Linked DNA regions of Homo sapiens: all the other regions are linked to region 1. Evidence: fine-mapped QTL for protein levels in blood plasma. A gene starts in region 1. Each other region holds a variant in brackets. All regions are shown on one strand. Distances are from middle to middle. Region 1 holds the start of IL5RA (interleukin 5 receptor subunit alpha). Region 2 overlaps IL5RA (interleukin 5 receptor subunit alpha). Region 3 overlaps IL5RA (interleukin 5 receptor subunit alpha). Region 4 overlaps CNTN4 (contactin 4). Region 5 overlaps IL5RA (interleukin 5 receptor subunit alpha).

The links. PIP is the posterior inclusion probability: the model's chance that the variant is causal. Protein levels are from antibody-based Olink assays in UK Biobank. Linkage for the fine-mapping came from a reference panel and not from the study's own genotypes, which makes the PIPs less certain.
Region 2: its variant is fine-mapped to the plasma level of the IL5RA protein (UK Biobank, PIP above 0.99). The variant lies in the coding sequence of IL5RA. If it changes the protein, the assay may bind it differently, which can mimic a change of level.
Region 3: its variant is fine-mapped to the plasma level of the IL5RA protein (UK Biobank, PIP above 0.99).
Region 4: its variant is fine-mapped to the plasma level of the IL5RA protein (UK Biobank, PIP above 0.99).
Region 5: its variant is fine-mapped to the plasma level of the IL5RA protein (UK Biobank, PIP above 0.99).

Annotation. Positions count from the first base shown.
Region 1 is chr3:3,110,199-3,116,774 of GRCh38, forward strand. IL5RA (interleukin 5 receptor subunit alpha) reads right to left here and starts at 176. Exons shown (of 12, transcript NM_175726.4): 1 at 1-176.
Region 2 is chr3:3,095,679-3,100,678 of GRCh38, forward strand. IL5RA (interleukin 5 receptor subunit alpha) reads right to left here. Exons shown (of 12, transcript NM_175726.4): 6 at 2,459-2,612; 7 at 2,192-2,379. Among named protein-coding and RNA genes, the nearest start is that of IL5RA, 12 kb to the right of the region's middle. The variant T/C (reference allele first, on the strand shown) is at 2,595.
Region 3 is chr3:3,089,221-3,094,220 of GRCh38, forward strand. It overlaps IL5RA (interleukin 5 receptor subunit alpha), which reads right to left. Exons shown (of 12, transcript NM_175726.4): 9 at 3,004-3,142. Among named protein-coding and RNA genes, the nearest start is that of IL5RA, 19 kb to the right of the region's middle. RefSeq lists a silencer at 1-31. The variant A/G (reference allele first, on the strand shown) is at 2,238.
Region 4 is chr3:3,035,555-3,042,130 of GRCh38, forward strand. CNTN4 (contactin 4) reads left to right here. Exons shown (of 25, transcript NM_175607.3): 18 at 1,625-1,774; 19 at 3,379-3,449; 20 at 4,483-4,717. CNTN4-AS1 (CNTN4 antisense RNA 1) reads right to left here. Exons shown (of 4, transcript NR_046554.1): 3 at 5,491-5,600; 4 at 4,107-4,828. Among named protein-coding and RNA genes, the nearest start is that of CNTN4-AS1, 22 kb to the right of the region's middle. RefSeq lists enhancers at 2,559-3,758, 2,993-3,102. The variant G/A (reference allele first, on the strand shown) is at 3,214.
Region 5 is chr3:3,062,310-3,068,885 of GRCh38, forward strand. IL5RA (interleukin 5 receptor subunit alpha) reads right to left here. Exons shown (of 12, transcript NM_175726.4): 12 at 4,015-6,576. Among named protein-coding and RNA genes, the nearest start is that of CNTN4-AS1, 4.5 kb to the left of the region's middle. The variant T/G (reference allele first, on the strand shown) is at 4,249.

The sequences.
Region 1 (6,576 bases):
AAACGAAAGAATCTCTCGTCCAGATAGCCATTATCTGATAACTGTCTTGTCTGCATTTTCACTCTCTTTCAGAGTTGGTTTGCTCTCTTCAGGAGTGGGAATTAACTTTTACTCATGGTGACAAGGTAAACAAGTTTTCCGTGGGTACTCTAAAGCGTTGCATTTCTGTTTTGTTTATGTGCCTTGTTTGGCTACAGTAGTTACTGTGCCTCTGTCTCCTAGGCAACACTGACACATGATTTGATAGGAAGTAAGGCCTGAGGAGTACCCTCTCCCCACTCACTAGGCAATAGCAGCAATTCTCTGCCCTTAGAGAACCGCCTTAGCTCTTCTCTGCTTTGTGAGCAGGTCTGGTACCCTCAAGTAAATATGTGTGGGGGATGCGTTTCTGGGTGTGATAAATTGCTGCTGTCTGTCACCTGAGATCATCCTACACAAATTGTAACAATGGCAGTGTTGGTCTGTGGGTGCACCCAAGACCACCTTCCTCACGTCACATCCATTTTACCACCCAGCTGTCTTCAGAATGCTTCAATTTCAGCAAACCTCCTTGGCTTTTCCTGTCCTTTGTTCCATTTCTGTTTGATTCCTTCTGGGGAATTTCGAGGTGGCTAGCTAGCAAAGCTGGCTTTAAAAAAGTAGCTTAGCGTGTGAATAGATAAGAGTAGTGCTTATTGTATGACCCACGGCAGAGAGTAGTAAGTAGTTGCCTTTGGAAGGAGACCTTCAGTCTAGCCTAAGCGATGAGTGATGCAGGATTCCCTGTCTCCTTAGGAGCTGACTGGGAGAGTCTCAGACAGAGCAGATGCAGAAAGATGGTGGCCCAGGTTGGATCAGTGGTTCTGTTTGTGAGATGAGAGACAGGCTTCCTGGAGGCAATTTCCAAAAGGCTCAGTGTAGAAGCTGTGCAAGTACAGTCAGCGTGTGTGCCTGGGGTTCCCAAGGTGACCATTTTAGCAGTTGCCAAAATGAAACCGGAGCAATTGTTATCAGGTTGAAAATTGTTGTCAGACCTGAAAAATGTGATTTTCCTCGGGGAAAGGGGAAGTAAAACAAGGAACAGAGAGAGATCCATTTATTTGCTAAGAGGCACCCAGAAAAGTTTAGATATAGTATCAACTATCTGGCCTACTCTTTTAAGTCCTGCCCATCTGTTTATACATGTAACATATTTGTCACTAATGAAACCTTAAAAATACTTATTAATCATTGGGAAGACAGTAATTTCTGGCTTAAAAGCCTGCTTTAATGGCCTCTCTCCGTATATATATATGTATATTTTTTGAGATGAAGTCTCACTCTGTCGCCCAGGCTGGAGTGCAGTGGCGCAATCTCTGCTCACTGCAACCTCTGCCTCCCAGGTTCAAGCGATTCTCTTGCCTCAGCCTCCCGAGTAGTTGGGATTACAGGCACCCGCCACCACGCCTGGCTAATTTTTTGTATTTTTGGTAGAGATGGGGTTTCACCATGTTGGCCAGGCTTGTCTCAAATTCCTGACCTCAAGTGATGCACCCGCCTTGGCCTCTTAAAGTTCTGGGATTACAGGTGTGAGCCACCACACTCAGCCAATGGTCTGTATATTTCTTACATTCATTTACTCAAATATTCATTGAATGCACCTATGCACTATGCTAGGCGCGGTGAAGGGTATAAAGAAAATTAGATCTGGCTGCTCCTTCCATACCACCTTCCTGGGTATATGATCTTTAATTAACTACGCCAATAAAAACAAACAAACAAACAAAGCAAACACATGCTCATACAGAAACACTGTCTCTATGTTTCTGTATAAGCACAAACGAAAAAATGAGAGGCAGGGACTTTTTTTTTTTCTGGCGGGGGGTTGCGGGGGGGTTGTTTGTTTGTTTTGAGATGGAATTTCAGTCTTGTTGCCTAGGCTGGAGTGCAATGGCGCGATCTCAGCTCACCACAACCTCCACCTCCCGGGTTCAACCGATTCTCCTGCCTCAGCCTCCTGAGTAGCTGGGATTACAGGCCCCCGCCACCACACCCAGCTAATTTTTTTGTATTTTTAGTAGAGATGGGGTTTCACCACGCTGGTCAGTCTGGTCTTGAACTCCTGACAGGTGATCCACCCACCTCGGCCTCCCAAAGTGCTGGGATTACAGACGTGAGCCACTGAGCGAGGCCTGTTTGGTTTTTTATGGCAATAATTTAATTCTTTATAATAAAGTGTAAACGTCCAAAGACAGTATGATAGAACATGCTGGAAGAATTCACAAAAGTCGTTTTTTTAAAAAGTGAAATTAAATGTGTCTGCATCCTTTAAGCAAAACAATGTGAGTTTAGCCAAATAGAAATATGAATAGTAATAAAACGAAAATCATGGTTCAGTGGCTCTACCATGAACTTTGGTTAAAGGAGCTTATTAAAGGTATCAACTTCTAGAACTTGATTCCATGGAAATAATGGAAAAATGTAGATCAAGATTTATACAAAAGAGAGCAAAATTCATTGTACCTTTACAATAGTAAAATAGTAAAAGTACTATAGGAATGGTGAAGAGAAATATGTAACTGCTCAAGGTTGAAATATGTGATGTGGATGTCAAAAGGAATGTTTATCAATAACTTTTTTTTTTCTTTTGAGACAGGGTGGTGCCCTGTCACCCAGGCTGGAGTGCAGTGGCAGGATCTCGGCTCACTGCAGTCTCTGCCTCCTGGGTTCAAGTGATTCTCGTGCCTTAGCCCCCGGAGTAGCTGGGATTGCAGGCATGTGCCACCATGCCAGATAATTTTTGTATTTTTAGTAGGGAGAGGGTTTCACCATGTTGGCCAGGGTGGTCTCAAACTCCTGGCTTGTGATCCTCCCACCTTGGCCTCCCAAAGTGCTGGGATTACAGGTATGAGCCAATCAAGAACTTTTAATAACATAGGGTATTATGAAAAAATGTTAAGTAAAAACAACAGGAGGGTATACACACATGTAATTTTTTTTTACAGTCTTATTTTTGGTCAGAAGATCAGACTAACAGGAATAGTTATCTCTAAGTGGTAGGTGTATTAGTCAGCTATTGCTACAGAACAAGCAACCACAGAACCCTCAGTGGTAAACTGTGATAGGCATGTATTTGTAGCCCATGTGTCTGAGTTTTGACTGGGGTCTGCTTAATCTTGGGCTGGGATCCAGATCACAAAGTGAGTTCAGATTTGTTCCAAGTATCTGCCATTCATTTGGAACCAGTGGCTACCCAGGGCATAATCTTTTTATGGTGACAGCAAAAGTGCAAGAGAGCAGGACCAACTGCACAAGCACGCATCAAGCATCTGCTCATGTCACATTCCCTGACATCTCAAGAGGCTGAGCAAATTGCATGGCCAAGCCCGGAGTCAAATGGACGAAGCCCAAAGTACATTCCACCATGATAAGGCCATGATAAGGATGTGGACATGGACAACTCCTAGTGGGGAGTGAAGAAATGGGACCAACAGTTCATTCTACCACGGCAGGGTTAGTGTTTCTCTTACTTTTATTCTGTGTTTCTATATTTACAAACGTTTTATTCTGTACAAATGCAGGCAGAAAAAGTTATTTTAAAAAATATTAGAGACATACAGATCAATTTAATAGAATTGAGAGTCAAAAATAAACTCTCGCATTTAGGGTCAATTGATTTTTGACAAGAGTGTCAAGACAATTCAGCGGGGAAAAGATCAGCCTTTCAATAAGTGGTGCATATCCACATGCAAAAGAATGCCTCGCAGCATAGACAAAAATGAATTCCAATGGGATCAAAGACCTAAAAGTAAGAGGCAAAACTATAAAATTCTTAGAAGAAAACATAGGCATAAATCTTCATGACCTTCATTTTGTTTCTTTCTTTTTTTTTTTTTTTTTTTTTGAGACAGAATCTTACTCTGTCGCCTAGGCTGGAGTGCAGTGGTATGATCTCAGCTCACTGCCAACTCCCCTGCCTCCTGGATTCATGCGATTCTCCTGCCTCAGCCTCCCGAGAAGTTGGGATTACAGGCGTGTGCCACCACACCCGGCTAAGTTTTATATTTTTACTAGAGATGGGGTTTTGCCATGTTGGCCAGGCTGGTCTCGAACTCCTGATCTCAGGTGATCCACCCACCTTGGCCTCCCAAAGAGCTGGGATTACAGGCATGAGCCGCCGCACCTACCCAATGGTTTCTTCAATAAGATACAAAAGCAGACACAACAAAAGAAAAAAATAGATAAACTGGATTTCACCAAAATTAAAAGCTTTTGTGCTTCAAAGGATACCATGAAGAAAGTGAAAAAAGACCGGATGCAGTGGCTCACGTCTCTAATCCCAGCACTTTGGGAAGCCAAGGTAGGCAGATCACCTGAGGTCAGGAGTTTAAGACCAGCCTGACCAGCATGGTGAAACCCTGTCTCTACTAAAAAACACAAAAATTAGCCAGGTGTGGTGGCAGGTGCCTGTAATCCCAGCTACTCAAAGGCTGAGACAGGAGAATGGCTTGAACTCGGGAGGCGAAGGTTGCAGTGAGCTGAGATCGTGCCACTGCACTCCAGCCTGGTCAACAGAGCAAGACTCTGTCTGAAATAAAATAAAATAAAATACAAGGAAGTGAAAAGACAAGCCACAGCATGGGAAAAATATTTGCAAAGACATATCTGACAAGGAACTTTTATTTAGAATATGTCAAAAACTCTTAAAACCAAACAATAAAAAGAAAAATAACCCACTTTAGCCTGTAATACCAGCACTTTGGGAGGTTGAGGTGGGAGGATAGCTTGAGCCCAGGAGTTTGAGGCTCTGGTGAGTCGTGTTCGTGCCACTGTACTCCAGTCTGGGTGACAGAGCAAGACCTTTCTCAAAAAACGAAAGAAAGATAGAAAGAAAAAAGTAAAATAACCCAGTTTAAGCATGGGATAAAGAATTTGAACAGACATATCTCCAGAGAAGATGTACCAACAGCAAAGGTGCCTAGGAACATCTGCTCCATATCATTAGCTATTGGAAATGCAAATGAAAACCACACTGAGATACCTCTTCACACCCACTCCAATGGCTGAAATGAAAAGGACAATAACAACTGTTGATGAAGATGTGGAAACACTGGAACCCTCACATACTGTTGCTGGGGAGGTAAAGTGAGGTGGCCAATTTGGAAAACAGCCTGGCAGTTCGTCAAAAGGTTAAATGTGGAGTTCCCATACGACTGAGTAATTGCATTCCTAGGCAAATACCCACCCAAGAGAGTTAAAATCATGTGTCTACATAAAAATTTATATGTGAATATTCACAGAAGAATTAGTTATAATGGCCAAAGAGTGAAAACAGCCCAAATGTCCAGCAACTGATGAATGGATAAAGAATATGTGGTATATCCATGCCGTGAAATATTATTCAGCCATCAAAAGAAGCACTGATACTACAACATGGATGAACCTTGAACACATGAAGCTAAGTAAAAGAAGTCAGTCACAAAAGATCACACACTGCATGATTCCACTTATATGAAATGTCCAGGATAAGCAAATCTATAGAGATAGAAAATAGATTCATGGTTGCCTAGGGCTGCCGGGGGATGGAGGGAGTTTGGGAAAAATAAGAAGTTACTGCTAATGGGTATGAGATTTTCTTCTGGGATAACACAAATATTTTAAATTGATTGTATTGATGGTTTCCAACTCTGTGAATATATTACAACCATTGACTTGTACGCTTTGAATAGGTGAATTTTATGATATGTAAGTTATATCTCAATAAAACTGTCATTAAAAAATACCCTAGCAGGATTAGATACCCTCAAAGGATTGAAACAGAATTCTGGGTAATCGTTAGAAAAATTCTAGTGTAAAATCAATCTGTTGAGTTATCCCATGTAGCTAAAATTAAAAGCATATCTTTATTCAGTAAAGAATTTCAGTAGCTTAAGCTTTTTTCAGTTCTTTAGTCCTTTTTTCAGTTCTTTAGTCAGAGACCAGTTCTTTGCTCTGAAAACCAGATACAGGAAATCAACCAGAATGTGTAAAAACAATAGCAAAAACTACACAATTAAACTTCTTCTTCTTATTATTATTATTATTATTTTGAGATGGAGTCTCTTTCTGTCACCCAGGCTGGAGTGCAGTGGTACGATCTAGGCTCACTGCAACTTCTGCCTTCTGAGTTCAAGCTATTCTCCTGCCTCAGCCTCCTGAGTAGCCAGGACTACAGGTGTGCGCCACTACGCCCGGCTATTTTTTTTTTTTGTATTTTTTAGTACAGATGGGGTTTCGCCATGTTGGCAAGGCTGCTCTCGAACTCCTGACCTCAGGTGGTCTGCCCACCTCGGCCTCCCAAAGTGCTGGGATTACAGGCATGAGCCACCACACCTGGGCTAAACTTATGTTGTTAATGTAGATTAATGTCCCATTTCAGTCAAAAGAGAAGCTACCATGTTCCTGGGACTGTCAGTTGCCTTATACACACGATCACATCACAGCTCTATAAACCTCTTTTACAGATGAGTATACTGAGGCTTAGAGAATTTACATAGCACAGACTCTTTGTGATGCTCTCCAAATTCACATTGCCTAGAATGTCAAAACCTTAATTCCATGATTGTCATAATTATTATT
Region 2 (5,000 bases), 15 kb before region 1:
CTACTCCAAATAGAGTTGAATGCTTGAATTACTTCCCCCCCTCAGCTCATTGCAAGACTCACCCACCATCCCCCTTTACTACTCAAGTTGTACCAGGCCCAGAATAAACCTGACCACTGAGAGAACATTTCCCTGGACCTTCCACCAAGCCTTGCCTCTTCCCAGTAGGTATGTGGCCCTGAACAAATCACTTCCCCTTTCTGAGATTCAGTTTTTAATTTTAATTTCATTTTGTTTACTGCGTCTTTTGGTTTTTGTTTGTTTGGGGGCTGGAGCAGGAAGCTTCAGTTTTCTTTTGCATCAAAAAGAATGGATTGGGGCAGGGCGTGGGGGCTCACGCCTGTAATCCCAGCACTTTGGGAGGCCGAGGCGGGTGGATCACGAGGTCAGGAGATCGAAACCATCCTGGCTAACGTGGTGAAACCCCCTCTCTACTAAAAATACAAAAAATTAGCTGAGCGTGGTGGTGGGCGCCTGTAGTCCCAGCTACTCAGGAGGCTGAGGCAGGAGAATGGCGTGAACCCAGCAGGCGGAGCTTGCAGTGAGCCGAGATCGCGCCACTGCACTCCAACCTGGGTGACAGAGCAAGAAATCTGTCTCAAAAAAAAAAAAAGAAGAAGAAGAAGAAGAAGAGTGGATTGGGCTAAATTTGTCTTTACTTAGGACTCTAATGTCCTTTCCCTTGAGATCTCACTTGATTGTCTTATGGTCCGGTGAGGTGAGGGGAAATGAATTCTTAATGAGTGTCCTTGTCTTAGGTAATATGACTTAGATCTCACAATTAATAGGGAAAAGCTAGGAGTGGGATCCACTGGCTTCAGAGCCTCCTATACCCTATGAAGAAAATTCTTAACCAAGAAAGTACTTATTTATTTTAGTAATCCTAGGAATCAGCCTCAATAAAATGAAAATCATAAAAGAAAAATGAATTCCTGTGGTCTGTACTAGATCATATCCATTTTCATATTAATATCATTGTTTCCTAGGTCTTCCTCGGCATCTTTTATTGCCTATTTTCATGAAAGTGACATTTTTAGTTCACCTAAGAAATATATTACTGGAGAGAATTGCATAACCTCTTTAGTAAGGGCTATGATTCTTTACACAAAGTTATATTCCATTGGATATAGATATGTCACAGCCAAATCATACCTTCTAAATAATATTGTAGTGTATTTATTAAACCTTTATGCCAGGCACTGTTCTAAGTGCTTTATCATTAGTAACACAATTCTCACGAAGACTGCACAGGAAGTATTGATTCCTCTCCATTGTTTCAGATAAGAAGATTAGGCACAAAGGAATGATCAGCTTGTCCAAGGTCACTCAGCCAGTGGTGGAGCCAGGATCCAAATCCAGGCAGTCTGGCCCCACAGCCCATAATAACCACCCACCATTGAAATCTGGAATCTCCATAACTAAGAATGCCATGTGAGAGCGCCTGATGAGTTTCACTAATAGAACTATCTGGGATGAGGGAGAGTGTCTTCTCTATTGAGAACTGAGCAGACAAAACCACGAATAGAATTTTTAGAGCTGAGAATTGCACACTGAGAGATATTCGAGCTGCAGAACATCCAGGAGATGGGCCAGAACAGTGAGAAATTCAGAGAGAGAGAGATGTTAGCCTGGGAGAAGAAGGGCTTCTGGATGGGAAACGTGCTGCCTGTGAACAGCTAAGAGAGGCTATTCTATAGGGAAGGGACTCAAATCACCTGGGGTGGCACTAGTCCATCACAGGACCCAGGGGCAGAAATTTCACAAAACCTGTCAGAACTCATGAAGGATTAAATGGTCTCTTTTAAGCAGCTAAATTCACTTTTTCTGGTGCAGTGATTCTCAACTGGGGGAAATTTTACCCCTTGAGGGGCATTTGGCAAAGTCTGAGACTTTTTTAAAAGTCACAGCTCAAGGACAGAGGGGCATACTACTGGCATCTAGTGTGTAGAGGCCAGAGATGCCGCTAAATATCCTACAGTGCCCAGCACAGCCCTCCATAACACAGAGTTGTCCAGCAAAACTCACTGGTGGTGTTGGAATGGAGAACCTTGCCCCAGTGGTTTTCAAACATGGGTCTGATGCTTACTTGGCATCAGAGAAGCAGTAAAACTAGGTGATCTTTATAACCCTTCCTTCCAGTGCTGAGATTCCGAGATTCAGTTATTTCAGCTTTGGGTTAAGTCGGTCTTACCAATGGCGTGAAGGGCAAACAGCTGATCAAAGGGCCTGATAGCAGAGTGCTTGCTGGAGCCGTTAACAAGCACCGCAAGCCAGTCACGCCCTTTGCTGAGGATAAAAGTCCTGGGAAACCAGCATGCGATATTTCTCCCCAGTGTGTCTTTGCTGTATTCTTGGCATTCTTCAGTCCAAGAGCCATACCTAAATTGGAACATTTACGAGTGTTATGAGGTTGCAGGAAACAACCATTTGCCTAAGTAAAAATAGGTACAGTACTAACCTATAGTAGAGAAAATACTGCGTGTCCTCAGGGGCATCTGTGCCAACAAGCCAGGTGCAGTGAAGGGAAACTTGGTATGACCTTAAACGTGAATAATTGTCTTCTGTAGTGTTTGTGGTGCAAGTTAAATTCACAA[T/C]TGAGGTTCCAGGAGACCCTAGGTAGTCAAAAGTAAAAAGGACAAAACATTGCCATGGCAAACTCTGAATTTCATGCTTCTTTTGGAACTATAGTGATGTGAACGTCGTATTCATCACCAAAAAATAATCATCTTCACATTTTTTTTTCCCTTGAGACAGAGCCTCACTCTGTCACCCAGGCTGCAGTGCAGTGTTGCGATCTTGGCTCACTGCAACCTCTGCCTCCTGGCTTGGAGCGATTCTCGTGCCTCAGCCTCCCAAGTAGCTGAGATGACAGGTGTGTACCACCACACCTGGCTAATTTTTGTATTTTCAGTAGAGCTGGCGTTTCACCATGATGGCCAGGCTGGTCTTGAACTCCTGACCTCAAGTGATCCACCCACAGCCTCCTAAAGTGCTGGAATTACAGGCATGAGCCACCATGCCCGGCCATGATCACATATTTCTAGAAACCTACTAACTACAAAAGGCCAACTTACTGGAGATATGGAATTAGAATTATAAAGTCCCCATTTCTGATATTCGAGAGCTTCCCAGCTATTTTGTTTGGGGCCTGGGGGTGGTGTTTGTGCAATACATGTGTGGAAGTTCAAGAGAAGTACAATATATTGTCATTTTGAGGTTGATGTCCGGCAACTTTGGTGCTCTAATGCCACATTTGTTAATAACTAGCTGTGAGACATTGACCCCCACTCTTCTGGGCTCTGTGTTTTCAACTGTAAAGGAGCGGGTTGGTACAGGAAGGTCTTGCGTATCCCTTTCCATCCTAGAATTGTGTGATTCATTAGGTTGTATCCAAATTCTTCATGAATTACATAGGTTGCTGCTCAGAAGAAATGAGTTTTGACAACACTGCAAGATTGCAGACTTTGCAGACTTGATGCACATTAGCATGTTAAAGTCCTCTTTAATATACTAGGACTTGAAGAAAACCTTGAATTGGCCAGGCACGGTGCTCATGCCTGTAATCCCAGTGCTCTGGGAGGCCAAGGCGGGTGGATATCTCTTGAGCCCAGGAGTTTGAGACCAGCCCAGGCAACATGGTGAAACCTCGTCTTTGCAAAAAATATAAAAATTAGGTGTGGTGGCATGCACCTGTAGTCCCAGCACTTTGGGAGGCTGAGGCGGGCAGATTGTTTGAGCTCAGGAGTTTGAAACAAGACTGGGCAACATGGCAAAACCCCAACTCTACAAAAAATACAAAAATTAGCCAGGTGTGGCGGCATGTGCCTATAGTTCCAGCTACTCGGGAGGTTGAGGTGGGAGGATCACTTGAGCTGGGGAGGTCGAGGCTGCAATGAACCAAGATCATACCACTACACTCCAGCCTGGGCAACAGAGTGAGACCCTGTCTCAAAAAACAAAACCTTCAGATTTTATTTTATTTATTATTATTATTATTATTATTATTATTTGGAAACAGAGTCATTCTGTCACCCAGGCTAGAGTGCAGTGGCATGATCTCAGCTCACTGCAACCTCACCCTCCCGGGTTCAAGCAGTTCTCCTGCCTCAGCCTCCCGAGTAACTGGGATTACAGGCACGTGCCACCACACTCAGCTAATTTTTGTATATTTAGTAGAGACGGGGTTTCACCATGTTGGCCAGGCTGGTCTCGAACACTTAACCTCAAGTGATCTACCCGCCTCGGCCTCCCAAAGTGCTGGGATTACAGGCGTGAGCGACCGCACCCGGCCAAGATTTTAAATGCAACCTTTTTATGTTTGCTTCATTAAGGATTTCTCAAATTATGTGACTAGAAAGGCTTGTTTTCATTTCAACCTCTCGTTGCTGTATTAACTGTTGGTCTTTAAAATACACTGTGGGAAACACTGGCCTTGTTGGTGGTTGCTCAGAGAAGGAAACAAGCTCTTGCACCTGGGCCAGGAAGGACCGCATTCAAGTGGGAGCCTTGAGAGATAGAAGGGGGTCTTTTGATCGTAGCTTAAGTGAGCTGTAGATCATTTTTATCACTGTCAGCCAGTGTCTTTCAAGAAGCAGAGGGAGAAGATGATGAGAGAGAGCCTCTTATTACCTGTAGAGAAGTTAAAGATGGATTTCTTCTTCATATCTGTGCTTTTGCACAGACAAAAAGAAGAACTACCTCAAAGCAAATTGACTTATTCAGTTCATGTATATATGCATATATTAGGTTGATGTAAAAGTAATTGTGATTTTGGTCATTACTTTTGCACCAACCTAATATATATTTGTCCATGCATTAAATGACCAGAAAGTCCACACCCAAGTACACTTTAGAGATCCTGACAACTCTTTGTCTTATAGTTCTCATCCAAAGAATCATTTAAGTGAATTCCACTTGGTTCAAAACAGAAATAATTTTTATTAGTGTCATCCTGTATCAGAGTGTTCAGAGGATAATTAGAATTGTAGAAATGTAAGCTG
Region 3 (5,000 bases), 22 kb before region 1:
CTGAGTGATGTGAGGGCTACCCCTGTAAGGCTGAGCTGGTTGTGTGTTGCACAACTTTAGGGGACGCTATTCTCCCTTGGGAACTCGGTAACTTAGCACGACCAGCCCCCTGGCAGATTCAGAACAGTTCTCCATTTATTAGGCCTTTCCTTATCTTTCCCAGTCTTCAGTGGAAATCTACCTGCTGTGTGTCAGATCGGAGTCATTTTCACATGGGCTGATGGGTCACTGCCCGAGACTTTCCTGAAGACCTACCCCATAGCTTAAGCGAATGAATTAAATAGTAGAACATTTTGGCATGTGCCTGAACTAAATCTCTCCTATGTATACTCTTCCAATGGTTGATGAATACCTCATAGGATTCATGAGAGATGGCATCCACATGCTTGATCACCCATAATCACAAAGGTTGGCTACCAAGATGTCTTTTTTTTTTTTTGAGATGTCGCCCAGGCTGGAGTACAGTGGCGCAATCTTGGCTCACTGCAACCTCTGCCTCCTGGGTTCAAGTGATTCTCCTGCCTCCCGAGTAGCTGGGACTACAGGCGCGCACCACCACGCCCAGCTAATTTTTTGTATTTTTAGTAGAGACAAGTTTCACCATGTTAGCCAGGATGGTGTCGATCTCCTGATCTGCCCACCTCGGCCTCCCAAAGTGCTGGGATTACTGGTGTGAGCCACCGCACCCATCCCCAAGATCTCTTAAATAAGACTTTAATCTACCCAGCACTTTAAAGCTTGCAGAATCCTGTCCCACCATGCCAGAGTGTCCAGAGATCAAGTGCTAGAGTCAGTTAATCTGGGGTTAGAGCCCCATCCCTGCCACTTGTTGGCCATGCAGAACAGAGTTAAGCCAATTACCTAAACTTTCCAAACAAGTTTTTTGATAGGACTAAGATTATGTATTTAGCATAGTGCTTGGCAAAATAAATAAAAATTAAAAAACACATGTAATCTGCTATCCCTGCTGTTGTTTTTATTTCAGATACGGTGTGGGGCAGGAAAGCTGGATGTTATCTCCTTTATCTTGAGAACCCTAGGAAACAGAGAGAAATTATTTGTCTGGGGATACACAATCAATCCTTGTAAAGGCTGAATGTTAAACCTGGGCTTTCTATGTAAGGCTCCAGTCTTCTTCCCACCATCCCATGCTCTTATAGACCTAGTGCAACAGTTAACGACGTGTGTGTGCCTCCCCAGGCTGAATGGTTTATCATACACATGAGACGCACTAGTTGCTTTTTAACTGTTTCCTTCTCTCATACAATGCCTATGTTGACTTGCCGGAAACACCTGGATAATAGCAAACACAGGGTTTGAATTTTCTTTTTTTTTTTTTTCTTTTCTTTCTTTTTTTTTTTTTTGAGATGGAGTCTCACTCTATTGCCCGGGCTGGAGTGCAGTGGTGCGATCTCGGCTCACTGCAAGCTCCGCCTCCCGGGTTCACGCCATTCTCCTGCCTCAGCCTCCCGAGTAGCTGGGACTACAGGCGCCCGCCACCACGCCCGGCTAATTTTTTGTTGTTGTATTTTTTAGTAGAGACAGGGTTTCACCATGTTACCGAGGATGGTCTCGATCTCCTGACCTCGTGATCTGCCCATCTCGGCCTCCCAAAGTGCTGGGATTACAGGAGTGAGCCACCACGCCCGGCCAACACAGGGTATGAATTTTCTATCTTCAAGGTGCAATACCACATGTCCTGGGTGTGGAATTGACATCTGTGTCAGGGTAAGACTGGAAATGTGCCCCTTCATCCATAGCTGCCATTGGGTATATTATTATCCTTCATGGATCTCACTGACAGAGACGATGCCCATCTTACTTGCCAAGCAAACTAGTCCATTTGATCGTAACATAAACAGTTGCAGAGCTAACACAGGAGTCCCGGTGATGCATGGACCTCTTTATACTCTATATCTGCTAGGCTGAAGGCTCAGGGACAGATCCAGATTTTGTGGGACCCTATAGATTACACAGTTTTGGAATCTTCTTTTTTTAAAAAAGTATAAAGTCAAAATTAGGTATGGGAAAATCGAAGAGATGGAGAACAGACTACTCGTTGCCAGAGTTCAGGGATAGAAGAGAGGAGAGAGAGATGGGTGTATTTATAAAAGTGTAACAAGTGATGATGCAACTGCTCTGTATCTTGACTGTGGTGATGGGTACATGAACTTAAACATGTGCTAAAATTGCATAGAACCAAACAGACACATACAAATGAGGACATATGGCTCGGC[A/G]CAGCGGCTCATGCCTGTAATCCCAGCACTTTGGGAGGCTGAGGCCGGTGGATCACCTGAAGTCAGGAGTTCGAGACCAGCCTGACCAACGTGGTGAAACCCTGTCTCTACTAAAAATACAAAAATTAGCCAGGCGTGGTGGCATGTGCCTGCAGTCCCAGCTACACGGGAGGCTGAGACAGGAGAATCGCTCGAACCCAGGAGGCAGAGGTTGCAGTAAGCTGAGATGGCGCCACTGCACTCCAGCCAGGGCGACAGAGCAAGACTCTGTCCAAAAAGAAACAAAAAAACAAACAAACAAATGAGGACATATAAAATTGATGAAATCAGTAAGATCTGGATTACCAACACCAATATTCTATTCCACTATTGTACTATAGTTTTGTAAGATGTTACCCTTGAGGAAAACTGGATGAAAGAGACACAGGATCTCTATTATTTCTTCCCACAGCTTGTGAGTGTGATAATTATTTCAAAATAAAAAGTTTAATTTAAAAAATGGATAGAAGTAGAAACAAAACTTGGAAAAAAAACAGGCACCAGGTCTAGGAGAGTTGGCGCTAATGAGAAGCCTAGACACTTAAAAACTTCACTGGCTTCATGGCAAATCTATTCCTGATTGAAAAGGCAGTAGACCGAGAGAAAATTAGTCACAATAGAGATATGAAACCATTTTAAGACCCACGAGTGAACGGGTACGTTTCTGGGATTACCTTTTTTGATCACAAGGAAGGCTGCCAATGTAAAATAAACATAAGCTACTTACCCACATAAATAGGTTGGCTCCACTCACTCCAGAGCCCTGCCTCTCTGCACATGGAGCTCACTGCTGCTCTCACTTGAACATCGTACTTAGAAAGATCATCAATTATTGAGATGAATGCATTGGTCATCAATTTTTCTATCTAAGTGGGGAAAGATAGCATTAGAAGAATCTCTAGACACCTAATTTAGTTCTGCCGATTATCAGAATGGGAGGTCCTATATAGGTCATGTGACTCACTGTTCAGCAAGTCCTTTAAAATCAACAGGGCACACATTAATTCGTTTATGCTAGGTGCGTTAGTGTGGATGTGTTGGCAGTCACCCTTCAGTGGAACGCTATCTTGTAACCAAAATATACGAAATGATCAACGGTCAAGATCCAGGTGTTCCTATCCAGGCCCAGCTGATGTTTCCAGACTGAAAGACTGGAGTGGCCTATGCTAGAATGCATTATTCCCTCACCTTGTCTCTCCATAATCTATAGTCACATTACTAAATAATGTCACATGAACGCTAGATTGTCTAGTGTTGAAATGAAGCTATTTTCTCATGAATGAGCCCTTCTTCTTTTTCCTTCTACTGATCATGGTCGCCACCATCCAGCTAGTCCCCTGTACCAGAGATGTGCTCCTGACACCTGTATCTTGAATACCCCCGGAGGTGTTTCTCCCTTTTTTACTCCAGCCCTGTGACCATTGCCTATTTTAGCTCTTATTATCTTTTGCTTGGACCTTTGCAGTAGCCGCTAACTGATATCATATGTCCATGTCGCCCCTCCCCACTCACATCCAGTTTTCATGCTGCTACCAAAAATCTTCTTTTACTCTGCAAATGTAGACATATTTCTCTATTGTGTAAAACTCTTCAGTGGCATCCATTGCCCAGAGTCATGGTTTTTAAAAAAGAAGCCACTTCTTTATTTTTTAGCAAAATCTTATAGAGCCACTCTGGGAGAAATCACAATGTCAGATACAGAGTCATGATTTCAGCATTGGTCTTATGTCCAGGCATCCAGGCAGACTGAATTACTTGCCACTTGACTGAAAGAACCATACTCTCTCAAGCATAAAGTTACTCCTTTTCCTAGGCTGGTGCAAGTCAGGAACTATTTATTACTGGCTTGTGATGGGCTAAATACAGATAAAATTATGACTGCAATTTGGAAGTTTTGATAGCAATTTGACATTGCCATGATATCCAAACACATGATCAGTGAACTGACACTTTACATGTCTTTGGCTATATTTAATTTTTTCTAGCAGATCATTTTTATTGTATTTGACAAAAGCACCAATCTATGGTAGATTAGACATTATAAAAACACACGCACACACACGTGCACACACAGTCCTTCAGTGTAAGTATTTTGGGAAGCTCTGGCTAAGAAAGTCCTTCTCATGTTTTCTCACCAGACTAGTTTCTCTTCATCCTTACAGATTCCGTTCAATTCCTCTCTGCAGAGCAGGCTCTGTGCCCACACCCCCATCTCTAGCTGTACTGGCTTTTCCTGTGGGAGGGCAACCCCAAGGCTGGGCAAGTATGTCACAAGATTGGGTCACTCCATGGCAGAAACAGTCTTATTTCTCACAAAGAAGCCAATTTGTAAATATTTGTTGAATCTAATTGAATTGGCTTTGTCTACTCTCTGTAAGACATAAGTTGGAATCCTATTTTTTTTCCTAGCTTTGTGACTGTGGGAGAGTTACTTCATCTCTTTTGCCTCACTTTCCTATAAAATGGGAATGGTAATTACATCATAGAATTATGTGAGGATGGAATAAACACATAATAAAGCTTGACACATAATTGATGCTCAAGAAATGTTGATTGGCTTTCTTCTCAGTTCCTTTCCCCTTGAAATTTTTGTCTATTAGTGCTAATGAGTTTTTTTAATTGTAAAATACATATAATGAAATTTACCATCTTAATCCTTTTTAAGTGTACAGCTTTGTGATATTAAATAGTTTCACATTGTTGTGTCACCAATGTTCAACACTC
Region 4 (6,576 bases), 75 kb before region 1:
CACTTGCTGCTGTGTTTTTTGAGACAGGGTCTCACTCTGTCACCCAGGCTGGAGTGCAGTGGTACAATCACAGCACACTGCAGCCTCGACCTCCTGGGCTCAAGCAATCTTCCCACCTCAGCCTGTTGAGTAGCTGAGACCACAGGCGCAGGCCCCCACACCCAGCTAATTCTCTAAAATTTTTTGTAGAGACAGGTCTTGCTATGTTGCTTAGGCTGGTCTCAAACTCCTGCGCTCAAGCAATTCTCCATCAGCCTCCCAAATTGCTGGGATTTCAGGCGTGAGCCACTGTGTCCAGCCCCATTTTTTTAGATGGATAAATTTGGGGATAAAAAGACATGAGATTTCTTTTTAACCAATTTTACAAATTCTTAAAAAAAAAAAAAACATTGTTAGCAGCAACACTTCCATCCTGTTTCCCTTTATTACATGTATACAGCACTTCCTATTTTTTAAAAGTTTCACAGTTATTTCTCTTTGCATGTAAAAGAATTCTTATACCAACCCCACTCTGTCAGTACCTCCAAATTGACTCATTTTCTTATTTAGATTTCATTTAAGGATAAATTGGATGAACAAGTAGTTATTACAAACAAAGATACACACTCCTCTAGACAGCAAAAGTAGGCTATATGGCCTTGATGTTTTGAAGGAGAATATGCCCAGTGTTGAGCAATTCATATAAATCTTGTTGATTTTAACCCATTTGTTTTTTTCACTTTAGTTTACTAATCCTTAGAAATGGGTTTCTGTGTTTCCTTCTGTAATCACTGAGTCACAGGTGTGCTTTAAGAAGGAAATATGAGAAAAATATAGAAGTTAGGAGATGAATTCTAGACCTGACTGCTAATCAGCTGATCTCTATACATCTTCATTTTCCTCTTCTGTTAAATGGGCACAATAAGAATTGTTTAAGAATGAATATAGGCCAGGCGCAGTGGCTCACAACTGTCATCCCAGCACTTTGATAGGCCAAGGCGGGTGGATCGCTTGAGCCCAGGAGTTTGAGAGCAGTCTGGGAAATGAGGCGAAATCCCGTCTCTACTAAAAATACAAAAAAAAAATAGACAGGCATAGTGGCATGCACCTGTAGTCCCTGCTACTCAGGAGGCTGAGGCACAAGAATTGCATGAGTCTGGGAGGTGGAGGTTGCAGTGAGCCGAGATTGTGCCACTGCACTCTACCCTGGGCATCAGAGAGAGAGAGAGAGAGACCCTGTCTCAAAAAAAGAAAAAAAAAAAGAAAAGAAAAAAAGAATATAATACTTTTACCTTTCTCAGAGGATAGTTGAAATAGTGTGTCTGGCACTATACAATAAATGCGGAAACACATGTGAAGGGGTGATAGTAATGATTGAGTCAGGTAGTTTGGGGTCTTGTGGACTGTGTGTCTTTTATGATGTCATCTGCTGGTATCTGATTAGAGTGTGTTAGTTTAACATACAGAGATAGTTCTGAGATTACCTCACTGAAACAACTGTTGATGCAGCTAATATCAGAACACCTACACTGCCCTGAATACAATAATGATGAGGATGGATGGATGTTCCTATCTTCCTAACGTAATCTCTGCATTTGTTTTCTGAGAACCTATGAAACAGCCCCCACCTTTTGTTGTCTTTCAGTCCCAGAACTCATTGATGGGAAGACATTCACAGCGACCGTGGTGGGTTTGAACCCTTGGGTTGAATATGAATTCCGCACAGTTGCAGCCAACGTGATTGGGATTGGGGAGCCCAGCCGCCCCTCAGAGAAACGGAGAACAGAAGAAGCTCGTGAGTAGCACCCGAGATTCAGATCATCTGTTCTGCCAGCTGCTGTTCCTTAGGAAAAGCGTTTGAATTCTTGCTGCTCTTCAGCGCTCATGCGGCTCTGTGTTAGCTCACCCTTCCCTTTAAATGTTTATAATGATAGAAATCAGGCCAGGAGAAGCCCAGCTGAACACGCAACGGGTTTCAATCAAGAGTTGTTTTCTTCATTAGGTCCACTTGTACAGCAAGAGACACACGGTGCTTAGTCCTCTCAAAAGCCAGCCCTTTCTTCATTGGTTCATTTGTCACCAAGATTCTAACAGAATTTCAAAAAAAAATCCCACATTTCAAATAAAATTATCTCACATAAGTAACTAATGGCAAAGAATAATTTGTGACTGCTCTGGACACAGCCACCATGGGGTAATCCTGTTTAGAATAGAAATAAAAAATAATTTCTTCAGAAATGTTCACTTAGATTATCTTTCTTAGGGTATAAACCATTCCCAGAAACGAAGATTCAGAACATCGTGCTCATTCGAACAAGACCAGTCAGCAATTCAGTATGGCCCTCTGCATATGCAGCTTGAATGAGCACGGGGAGAGAAGAACAAGTTCATCAGGGTCAGCCGTACTTTTACTTAGCTGGTGTAAAGCAAGAGGCCTACATGTGCCGTCTTTTATAGAGTTCCCGCCTGTAGAGAGGCCAGTGTGTTGAAGGAATAATAAGGTCCCTACACAAATAGGAGTTCTGACCCTACTCTCAGAAAAGCAAAAACTCATCTAGATCTATTTGATTGGCTTTAACCAAGGAGACATACCCAGTCACCAGCCACATACCCCAGTGAGACCTTTTTAAATGTGGCCCGGAGCCTTTCAGTTACGTGATGACAATATAGCTAGTCCCCTGCTTTCTTTTCCCCTTCCAAAACCATAATTGAATTAATTCCCCTCAGCAATCCTGAGGTGGAAGCTCGCATAATTTCCTCTCTTTTATAGAGAAAACTGGTGATCAAAGAGGTTAAGCTCAGTGAGCCGGGGGTCAACTTCTGTCTGCCACTTCCTTCAACACTCAGATCAAAACTCTTCCTCCCAGAAGCCATTCGCCCACCCCAGCTCTGAGCAGGGCGCTACTCCGGAACGCCCCCCGCTTCTCCATGCTGACTGTTCCTTACCCTGGTTGTCGACCTTGCTCTAACTGGTGCAGGCGCTCCTCCACTCCAACCAGCTTGTAAGCTCTGCCTGGGCAGAGCTTGTACTCTTCCCTTTGTGTATCTCCACGTGGCTCATAAACGCATAACCAAACATTAGGACCAGACTTCAGTCCTTTCCTCCCTTCGGGAACCCCTCGGCCTCTAGGGATGGAGCTGAACAATTGGTCAGACGTGTCAGATAACACGTGTGCCTTGTTGAATGGGAAACAGGTAATTAATAGCAGTCTCCTTGGTACATTTCACTTCCTC[G/A]AGCGGTCGCCGTGGGCCCCTTGACAATGCTGTTGCTGATCTCCAGAGACAAAGGGGCGTGCCTCAGAGTACTCACTGAAAGTGAGTCACCTCTGCCAGGCAACCTTCCTGGCCCTCATTCGCCTTTGCCGCCTGACATAACTTGTTTTTTGTCTCCTTGTGCAGTCCCCGAAGTCACACCAGCGAATGTCAGTGGTGGCGGAGGCAGCAAATCTGAACTGGTTATAACCTGGGAGGTAAATGAATCACAGAATAAAAGGAACGTACACGCATCGAAGCTATTTTATTATTTTCCTCCATGTTAGACATAGCTGGGAAGTTTCCTCCTCTGTTTTTAACAGTGAAAATTCATTTGGGTTCAGACACTCCCTCTCACGTAGCTAATGGCTAGCAGGAAGGACGGCACTTGCCCATCCATTGTTGAGGCAAGTTTTAATTCAATCCATCACAGTAAAAACAATTATGAAGGGAAGACAACACACGTTACAAAAAAAAATAAAGAAGGCTGTTTCAGAGAAAACTAGTTTTTCTTTTCTTCCTGAATTGCTGCATGGCCAATTGATTTAAAACGTCTGCCAGCAATAGATTCAGTGCACCAGCACAATTTCCTGGCAATTGGCTTTGCTTCTAGAAGGGGCCCTCTTTTAGGAGGTATTTTTTAAAACAACCTGGAGGAAAGTTAGTCACCAATTTATTAAAAATTGGCTTTGAGAGAAGAGGTGGGAGCTTTAGAAAGGGTTCTTCATGTTTTTGAAAGATTCTAAACAGCCCCAGAAATTAAAATCTCTCATTTACCCAAAGCACAGCAGTGAAAGAAATCACTCATCCCTCCAGCTGAACTCTTCCCTCTGAGAGGGAGGATCTTCAGCCAAGATGGTTTTTCTTCCTTCAGTGAGATCTTTTGTCTATTTGGCAATGGAAGAAGATTAGTATTAGAGGATACGTGTTGGAAATGTGGTTTTTCAGGAGACCGATGTCCAGTGTTTTTTTTTTTACAATCATTTCCAACCATTTCAGAGCTGGGTCTGCCCCATCAAAGAGCAAGCTCTGGACTGCAGATCCTCATTACGTTTTCAACCCTGTCCAGTACATCATAACTGTTTAAGATAGACTGACTGCAAGCCCTAAATTTAAAAGACTGTTAACAAAACGCCAAATAAGATGGGTGGAGAAGGATGTAGACAAGAATGTTACAAGGGAAACAAAAACGATTTTTGCATTTGAGTGAAACTACTGTGATTTCTGAAGACCACCTTCCTTCTTTCCCAGACGGTCCCTGAGGAATTACAGAATGGTCGAGGCTTTGGTTATGTGGTGGCCTTCCGGCCCTACGGTAAAATGATCTGGATGCTGACAGTGCTGGCCTCAGCTGATGCCTCTAGATACGTGTTCAGGAATGAGAGCGTGCACCCCTTCTCTCCCTTTGAGGTTAAAGTAGGTGTCTTCAACAACAAAGGAGAAGGCCCTTTCAGTCCCACCACGGTGGTGTATTCTGCAGAAGAAGGTATCGTTTATGCTGCCTAGATCATTGACTGTTAATATTTCTTCAATTCTAAAATGTGGATTGTAGCACGTACAATCAATTTCGCATGGTACATGTATCTTGAAGGCATACCTGATTTGAGAAGAGGATAATGTAAACAATTTGGTTCGCTGTCCACCATGAATCTCTTGAAAAGATAGCGACTGCTCTGTATATGAAAACACTTGGCTGTCCATTATTGATTCCATTGCTAAGGACCAGAATTGCAAATACCATATAAGATCTTCATATCTATCTATATGTTATCATTACTTTCAAAAGAATTTTATTTTTGCCTTTAAGTGAATATCAAAATATAATTTGCATTTTCTTACCACTTGTATTTTCATAAAGCATATGGTACTTGTGGCTCACACCTGTAATCCCAACACTTTTGGGAGGCCAAGGCGGGTGGATCACCTGAGGTTGGGAGTTCGGGACCAGCCTGACCAATATGGAGAAAACCCATCTCTACTAAAAATATAAAATTAGCCAGTTGTAGTGGCACATCCCTGTAATCCCAGCTACTCAGGAGGCTGAGACAGGAGAATCACTTGAACCCAGGAGGCGGAGGTTGCGGTGAGCCGAGATCGCACCACTGCACTCCAGCCTGGGCAACAAGAGCAAAACTCCATCTCAAAAAAAAAAAAAAATCTCACTTATTAAAGAAAAGAGTAAGTCATGAAGCAGTGTGATTGCGCTCACTGTCATCCACACCATCATTATGTTTAACATTTCTCACACATTATTATCACCTCCATGCTATCCCTGCTCTCGGGATGCCTCTCACACAGTCTTCGTTACCTTTGGAGTTCGTCTATGTTGTTTTAAAGATGATGCTCAGAATGGGACCATGTTAAAACATCTGAAAGGTGAATCATTGATTTAGAGTCAGTGAAGATGCAATAACTTATTCCCAATCAGAGAGATCATCCCCTTAGACTCAGTAGCCCTCCATGATCTAGCTGCTGCCTCTCTGTCTGCCTCAGCTGCTGATGCCTTTCCCTGCATATTTCATGTTCCAACCATTGCCAAAGGATTTACAATTATTCAAACAAGCTTCAGCCCTTTTCATAGCCTTCAACTTCTCTTAGATAATAGTTCATGTCTCTGGATTATGAAAATGAGAGGAAAAGGGGAAAAGGACAGTCAGCTGACTTGACTAAGATTCAAGAGAGCTGGATGACACTTCAGGTTCACACTGCAATCTGTATGATCTTGGATAACTCAGGTATACTCTGTGGGCCTCAGCATCTTTGGCTGCAAAGGAGAGGCTAGACTGACTGTTTCCCAAATTTCAGTTATTTTTGCCAGATTTCTGCCATAGCTGTGTACCATTTGTATATGTTCACATTTTTCTTTCAATAGTCTTCCTTAAAAAAAATTTAGTGGGCAAGCACAGTGGCTCATGCCTGTAATCCCAGCACTTTGGGAGGGGGATGTGGGAGGATAGCATGAGCCTAGGAGTTTGAGACCAACCTGGGCAACATAGCAAGATCCAAGTCTTTACAAAAAAACATTAGCCAGGCGTGTTGGCACATGTGTGTGTGGTCCCAGCTACTTGGGAGGCTGAGGCGGGAGGATGGCTTGAGCTCAGGAGGTCAGGCTGCAGTGAGCCATGATTGTGCCACTACATTCCAGCCTAGGTGACAGAGTGAGACCCTATTTCAAAAAAGAAAAAGAGAAGCAGTTTAGCCATGTCGTAAGCAATAACATTTGTGAGATGCTAATTAAGAAGGATCTGTGTTAAGGGAATTGCTGGCTATGAAAACTTGGTGCTTAAACTTAAGTGGTTCTTCTCTTCTACCCACACCTAAATTCAGAACCCAAACACTGGACAA
Region 5 (6,576 bases), 48 kb before region 1:
AGGTTCAGATGCTGGAGGTGGAGAAGTTCTGAGTGCCGGCCAGGCCCAGGGCACAGCCATCTGGAGGAATGGGATAGGATAGGTGCCTGGAGAGGGTTTTAGTTATTCAGCAAGGGACTACTGGCAGCCCTCTCTGTACCAGGCACTATTCTGGGCATAGAAGAATGATGTGGCATTCAGATGTGTGTGAGGAAGCCAAGGCACCAGTAACAGTATTTTGTCACAATACAGAGAAATGCAATGATAATAATAATAGTAAACAGTGATTATGCTTATAATATGTGCCAGACTCAGTGCAAATCAACCTACCGATTTAGTTACCATTTATTATTCCTATTTTATACACAGAGGATTGAGGTTGACAGGTTCACATTTGTCCCTGATCACACAGTTGATCAGAGAGACCAGGAATTGAAATGCTGGTGGCTTGGGTTTAGGGCCCTACTCCAAAACATTAGATGTCTCTATCTGTAAATAGATGATACATAAACAATAAGGTAGGTAGATAGATAAATAGACAGATAGATACGGTTCCCATATAGCAACAAGAAGGAAAGGCAGTCATGAGCTTCAGTCTGCTCTAAAGTGGCTCAGCTTCTCTGCTTCTCTTTCCTTGACTGCAAATGTTGTTTTTTGCGTGTTCGTTGTCCTTGACTTCAGGTGTCTTAGAGCTGTTTCTTTAAACTCCGGCTACCCTTCAAGATCAGGATTACCCAATAAAATAGGAGAGGAGCTATTAAACTTAGATTTCAGATAAAAAAAAAATTATGCTTCCTTAGTATAAGTATGCCCCATGTGATATTTATTTGAAATTCAACTTTAACTGAGCCTCTTATTTTTATTTGCTAAATCTGGCAACCTGACACCAGGAGGTCTTCATTACTCTCATTGAAGTAATTAATTTGTAATTCAAAATTTCAGGGTCTTGCGAATGTGTTGTCAGATCTCTGAAGGTCAATGGCTCTGAGGGCGAGACATGAAGTTTGCTGTTTTGAGTTCTGTTTCGTTTGCTGAACTCTCCTTCCCACTTTTCCTTGGATGGTGTGAGGATGGGATGTGTGTGTGTCCAGAGAGACAGGGCTGGTGGGTGAAGTTCCTCTTAGAGCTGGCAGAAAAGAGGTTTTGTTTTTTTTTTGTTTGTTTTTTGAGACGGAATTTTGCTCTTGTTGCCCAGGATAGAGTGCAATGGCGCAATCTCGGCTCACTGCAACCTCCGCCTCCCGGGTTCAAGTGATTCTCCTGCCTCAGCGTCCTGAGTAGCTGGGATTACAAGCATGCGCCGCCACGCCTGGCTAATTTTGTATTTTTAGTAGAGACGGGTTTCTCCATGTTGGTCAGGCTGGTCTCGAACCCCTGATCTCAGGTGATCCACCCACCTTGGCTTCTCAAAGTGCTGAGATGACAGGCGTGAGGCACCGCACCCAGCCCAGAAAAGAGTTTTAAGACAAGGGAATCTTTCCCCAGCAAAGGCCCACATTATGTGGCAAGAAGGTGTTAAAGCAGGTGGAAGGGATTCCAGAAATATTCTGAAAGCTTAAAAAAATGGGTTTGTTGCCAGGAACATAGGCCACAGCACAGCTCGTTGGAAAACTATGTAGTGGACGCATCGTTTATCAACTGCAGTGTTGGGACCAAATATCCGAGACCAAATAACTGGCAGTTAGAATTGGCCCAGTTGTTCCTCTTGAATTTAGTGGTTAACAAATAAGATATTGAGTGCATACTATGTGTCAAGCACTTGCTGGGCACTGGAGAAACTGAGATAAATAGGGTTAAGGCTTCCCTCATGGTTCACTGAAGGAGACAGAAATACACTTATTGAAGGATGGTGTGAATAGTGTGACAGATAAAGGTATGAACACAATGCTGGACCTGTGTTTCTTGCAAAACCTACTTATAATGAGGTTAAGTTCAGTCAAACACAATTTTTTTTACCATTGATCCCCCAGGATAGAATATTTTCATTTGATTAAACATGATTATTTTCCCAAATTGGTTGCTTTTCTTAAAAAAAAGAAAAACACATTCATAAATATTTTGAATCCATTAAGCCATGTGTCAATATTGGCCCTCTGGGAAAATCTAGCTCATTGCCCGCTTTTTTTGTAAATCAAGATTTATTGCAACATAGCCATGCTGATTTATAGATTGCCTACGGCCACTCTGTGCTATCACGGAAGAACTGAGTGGCTGCCACAAAGACCATATGGTCCTCAAAGCTGAAAATATTTACTATCTAGCCCTTTAAGAAGAGTTTGCTGGCTCGTGCCTGTAATTCCAACACTTTGGGAGGCCAAGGGCTGGATGATCACTTGAGCCCAGTAGTTCAAGACCAGCCTGGGCAACATGGGAGACCCTGTGTCTACAAAAAAATTTTATAAATTAGCTGGGCATGGTGGCACACCCATGTGGTCCCAGCTACGCGAGAGGCTGAGGTGGGAGGATCATTTGAGCCCGGGAGGTCGAGGCTGGAGTGAACGGTGATCACAGCACTGCACTCCAGCCTTTCCAGCCTGGGTGAGACAGGAGACCCTGTCTTAAAAAAAAAAAAAAAAAGGCAGCAGCAGCTTGCCGACCTTTAAACTACGACACCAGTACTTTATTGCTGATTTCGTTCTTGCAATTTTCCCCTCAGGTTTCTGTGTTCTTCCAGTTTATTACTTGGCAGGGACAAATCTTTGCTTTTAATTTTAATAAATGAAACAAACCTAATAAAACACCTTCAAGTTGAAAAGAGTCCGCTAGAACTTTAAAATCATGCACATGGGCCATATGGGCGGCTTTGTGTTGCTCCTGACAACCAACAACGCAGATGTCTACTGAGAGCCAAATGGTGGGTGATGCCGGCCGCGGAGGTGGAGGGCAGCGTTTCTGAGACCAGCATCACACCCACTGTGAGTTTTTACTACTTCATTAATTTAAGCTCCAGTGACGATTTAACTTCTGCTATAACCACACAGCTTTAATAAATGAACCTACCATTAGAACATAGTTCTTTAGAATCTATATTGTTTTCCGTTCTTTTAAATGTTTAATAAGCTCACTTCCTTTTCCTTCGTCTGGTTACTCAACCAGCAGTCAGTTCCTCCTTGGGGCTTATGGACACAAAGATAAGTCAGACACTGCTCTTGGCCTCAGAGTGTTTGCACTGGAAACGAGACAGAGCATTGGTGAGGAGTCCAGGCCAGGTGCGGTGGCTCACGCCTGTCATCCCAGCACTTTGGGAGGCCGAGGCGGGTGGATCACGAGGTCAGGAGATCGAGACCATCCTGGCCAACATGGTGAAAACCCGTCTCTGCTAAAAATATAAAAATTAGCTGGCTGTGGTGGCACGTGCCTGTAGGCCCAGCTACTGGGGAGGCTGAGGCAGGAGAATGGCTTGAGACCCGGAGGCGGCGATTGCAGTGAACCGAGATCTCGCCACCGCACTCCAGCCTGGGCGACAGAGTCAGACTCTGTCTCAAAATAAATAAATAAATGAAAGTCCAATCACTGATAGAATTAAACAAAAGGAACATAGAGGGACACTTAATTCAAACTGGAAGTTGAGCAAAGATTTTCAGGTGGCAAAGAGCCGAGACTTAGAAGATAAATCAAAATGTCAACAAAATGAAAAGAGGTTGAAAAGGCTTTTTCCACCAGAGAAAGTTTCGGCAGAGGCATGGAGTGATGCAGTAGCATGGAGCTACAGGGAAATCATCAGCACATTGGTGAGAATGGAGGTAGGAGTATTTGGGTATGTGCCTGGAGAGCTAGTAAGGAGCTGAGTCATAGTGGACTTTGCCTTAAAAGGAGCTTTAACTTGAAGGTGATGGGGAGTTATATAGGCAGATGTGCCTTTTACATTGATCCTTCAAAGGGAGGAAATACTGGAGGCCATGAGTTCAGTTCAGAGGCTACTGTAATAGTCCTAGCTGAGAGATGGAGGAAGACAATGGTGGGGACAGAGAAGGGGAATATTTAGGGGAAAAATGAGAAAGGTACCCACCCCTCTTTAATTGCAGACTTAGACAATTCACTGTCATTTATGTTTAATATTTCTCATTCTGAAACATATTTATATTCACATCTATTACCTACAAAACAGGAGATAAGCATGATTGTCTTATAGTACAATACAAAATTCCAAAGGAAGGAATGGTTTTGAAAAAATTTGCACCCTGGTACTCAATTTGAAGGATGTAGAAGCAGGAATAGCTACAGTCCTTAGGCTAGCACCAAGTCCTATTCTAATTAGGTTTTTCACCT[T/G]TACTTGTGCCATCAGAGATTGTTTTCAGTTCTCTGTTCTCACTTCCAGATATCTACTTTTTCTTTAACAAATTAGCACCTCAGGCTTCTTAATTCCACCAGCAGATGGTCCTGACACATAGAAGTCTCACCATGAAAACGTTTGGATTTTTAATCAGGATGTTCTTTGCCCACGTGGATTCTTCCCCAGCCTGCATGAATAGCTTGAGGTCTGAGGCATTTCAATGAGGCTCAGGTGGTCGGGCTGTTGGCAAATGTGACCTTCACCCTCCAGTCTCCCCAGCACTCCCCCATGCTGCACGCAGTGAATTCCAAATGCCAAGGAAAGAAATTGGGCTAAAAATCCCTATTGGAACGGATATCTTGGAAAAGCATGTTTGTTCTGATCCCGTGGCTGTGGAGGCTCTAGGAGAAAAGTGACTCTCTACACTCGTCCTAGTGAGAGATGGCAAGAGATGGGAGCCAATATCATGACTTTACCTTACATCAACCTGCTGCTGATGGTGTTTACTGTTAAGTGAATTTCAAACTCTTTGACTTGCTATGACAAGGCTGGTGAGAACAGTATAGACCACTCACAGTGAGCCACTTCTGAAATGCCTCTTACACAGCAATTTATACATAACCATTTAGACACTTTGGCAGCAAAAACATCCAGGTTGCAGTAGCCCAGTTGTTAGGCACATGTGTCTCCTGGTTGCTTCTAACTAACCGCATTCTCATTAGATACCCAGCTTCCTCCCCCTGTCATTATTGTAGGCCTTGAGGATCTCTGCCAAATACTGTTCAGTCTAACCTATATACAAGGTGCCGTATCAGGGCTGACAGAGGGTTTAAGAAACATTTATATTTTCTTAAGTCAGATACTGTCCTAGACACTGCAGATAAAAAGACGTATTTCACACAAGCTCCATCCTCCTGGAAGCCGCAGTCTAGAGGGGAGGCCTCCCAGCTGTTAATGGTATATTCTACAATGCAGTAGCTCTAACACGGGTATGAGGCCCAGAATGAGAATCCAGAGGCGGGATCAACCAACTCTGCTTTTGAAGGCTTCATGGAGGAAGTGATGATGGTTACGGGTTCCCAAAGAATGACTATGAGTTGCACAGGGCAAGAAGGGAGGAAGGAGTTCCCAATCCACCAAGGAGGCCAATGGGCTACTTTGTGTTGCTCCTGAAACACATATACCAAGGGCCAGATAACGGTACCAGCTCAGGGAAGTGTGGCAAGGAGCTCCACAGAGCCCAGGTGATCTATGGCTGCTGAGTGGAGGGAGGAGTCTGAAGTGGGCACCACACCAAGCACTGAAGAGCTGGCCACATTTGTGGAGGGGGAGCTCCCTGCTTCTGTTCCTGCCTCCTAAGCAGAGGCAGTTTCCACAATGCCAACTGTCTGGGTTGTGGTTTGAAAGAGATCAGACAGGGTGCTCCAAGCCGCCCCAAAAGGACAGTTTTCTGGGGACAGGACTTTTCTGTCACATCTTCCTTCAGCGGCTGATTTTCAAATTTTGGTATTCATAAGACTCTCCTGGAGCAGCAGTTCTCCGAGTGTGTCCTGGAGACCAGCAGCATGAGCATCACCTGAGAACTTGTTAGAAACGCAGCTTTTCAGACCTCACCCAGACCTATTCAGTTAGAGACTCTAAGAATGGAGCCCACTCCTCTGTGTCTTAAGGAGCCCTCCAGGCGCCTCTGATTCTGACCTAAGGTGTTCATTACAAATACAGTTTCCTGGCCAGGAATGGTGGTTCATGCCTGTAATCCCAGTACTTTGGAAGGCTGAGGCCGGTGTATCGCTTGAGCCCAGGAGTTCGAGATGAACCTAGACAGCATGGCAAAACCCCAGCTTTACAAAAAAAAATACAAAAAAGAGCTGGGAATGGTGTTATGCACCTGTAGTCCCAGCTACTTGGGAGGGTGAGGGAGGAGGATGGCTTGAGCCCAGGACAGGGAGGTTGTAGTGAGCTAAGATCACATCACTACACTCTAGCCTGGGAGACAGAACAAGACTGTCTCCACCACCCACCCCACAAAAAAAAAAAAAAAAAAAAACAAAAACAGGTTTGAGATTATGAATCATTTGAGTGACCAAACATTTTAAACATTTTGCCAACTATTGCAGCACCTCCATGGGTGTTGCCTTCTCAGCCACACCCCTAAGCAGGCCTCAGCTTTCCCTGACACTCCTCTGCACATTTCTGGGGTCACTTTTACCTGAGCCTGGTATTCAACTCCTCACTATGCCATTTCCTATCAACTTCTCTGAACCTTAGTAACTGCAACTATAAAATGGGACAGTAATACAGATTACTATAAGACAGTGCAGGCT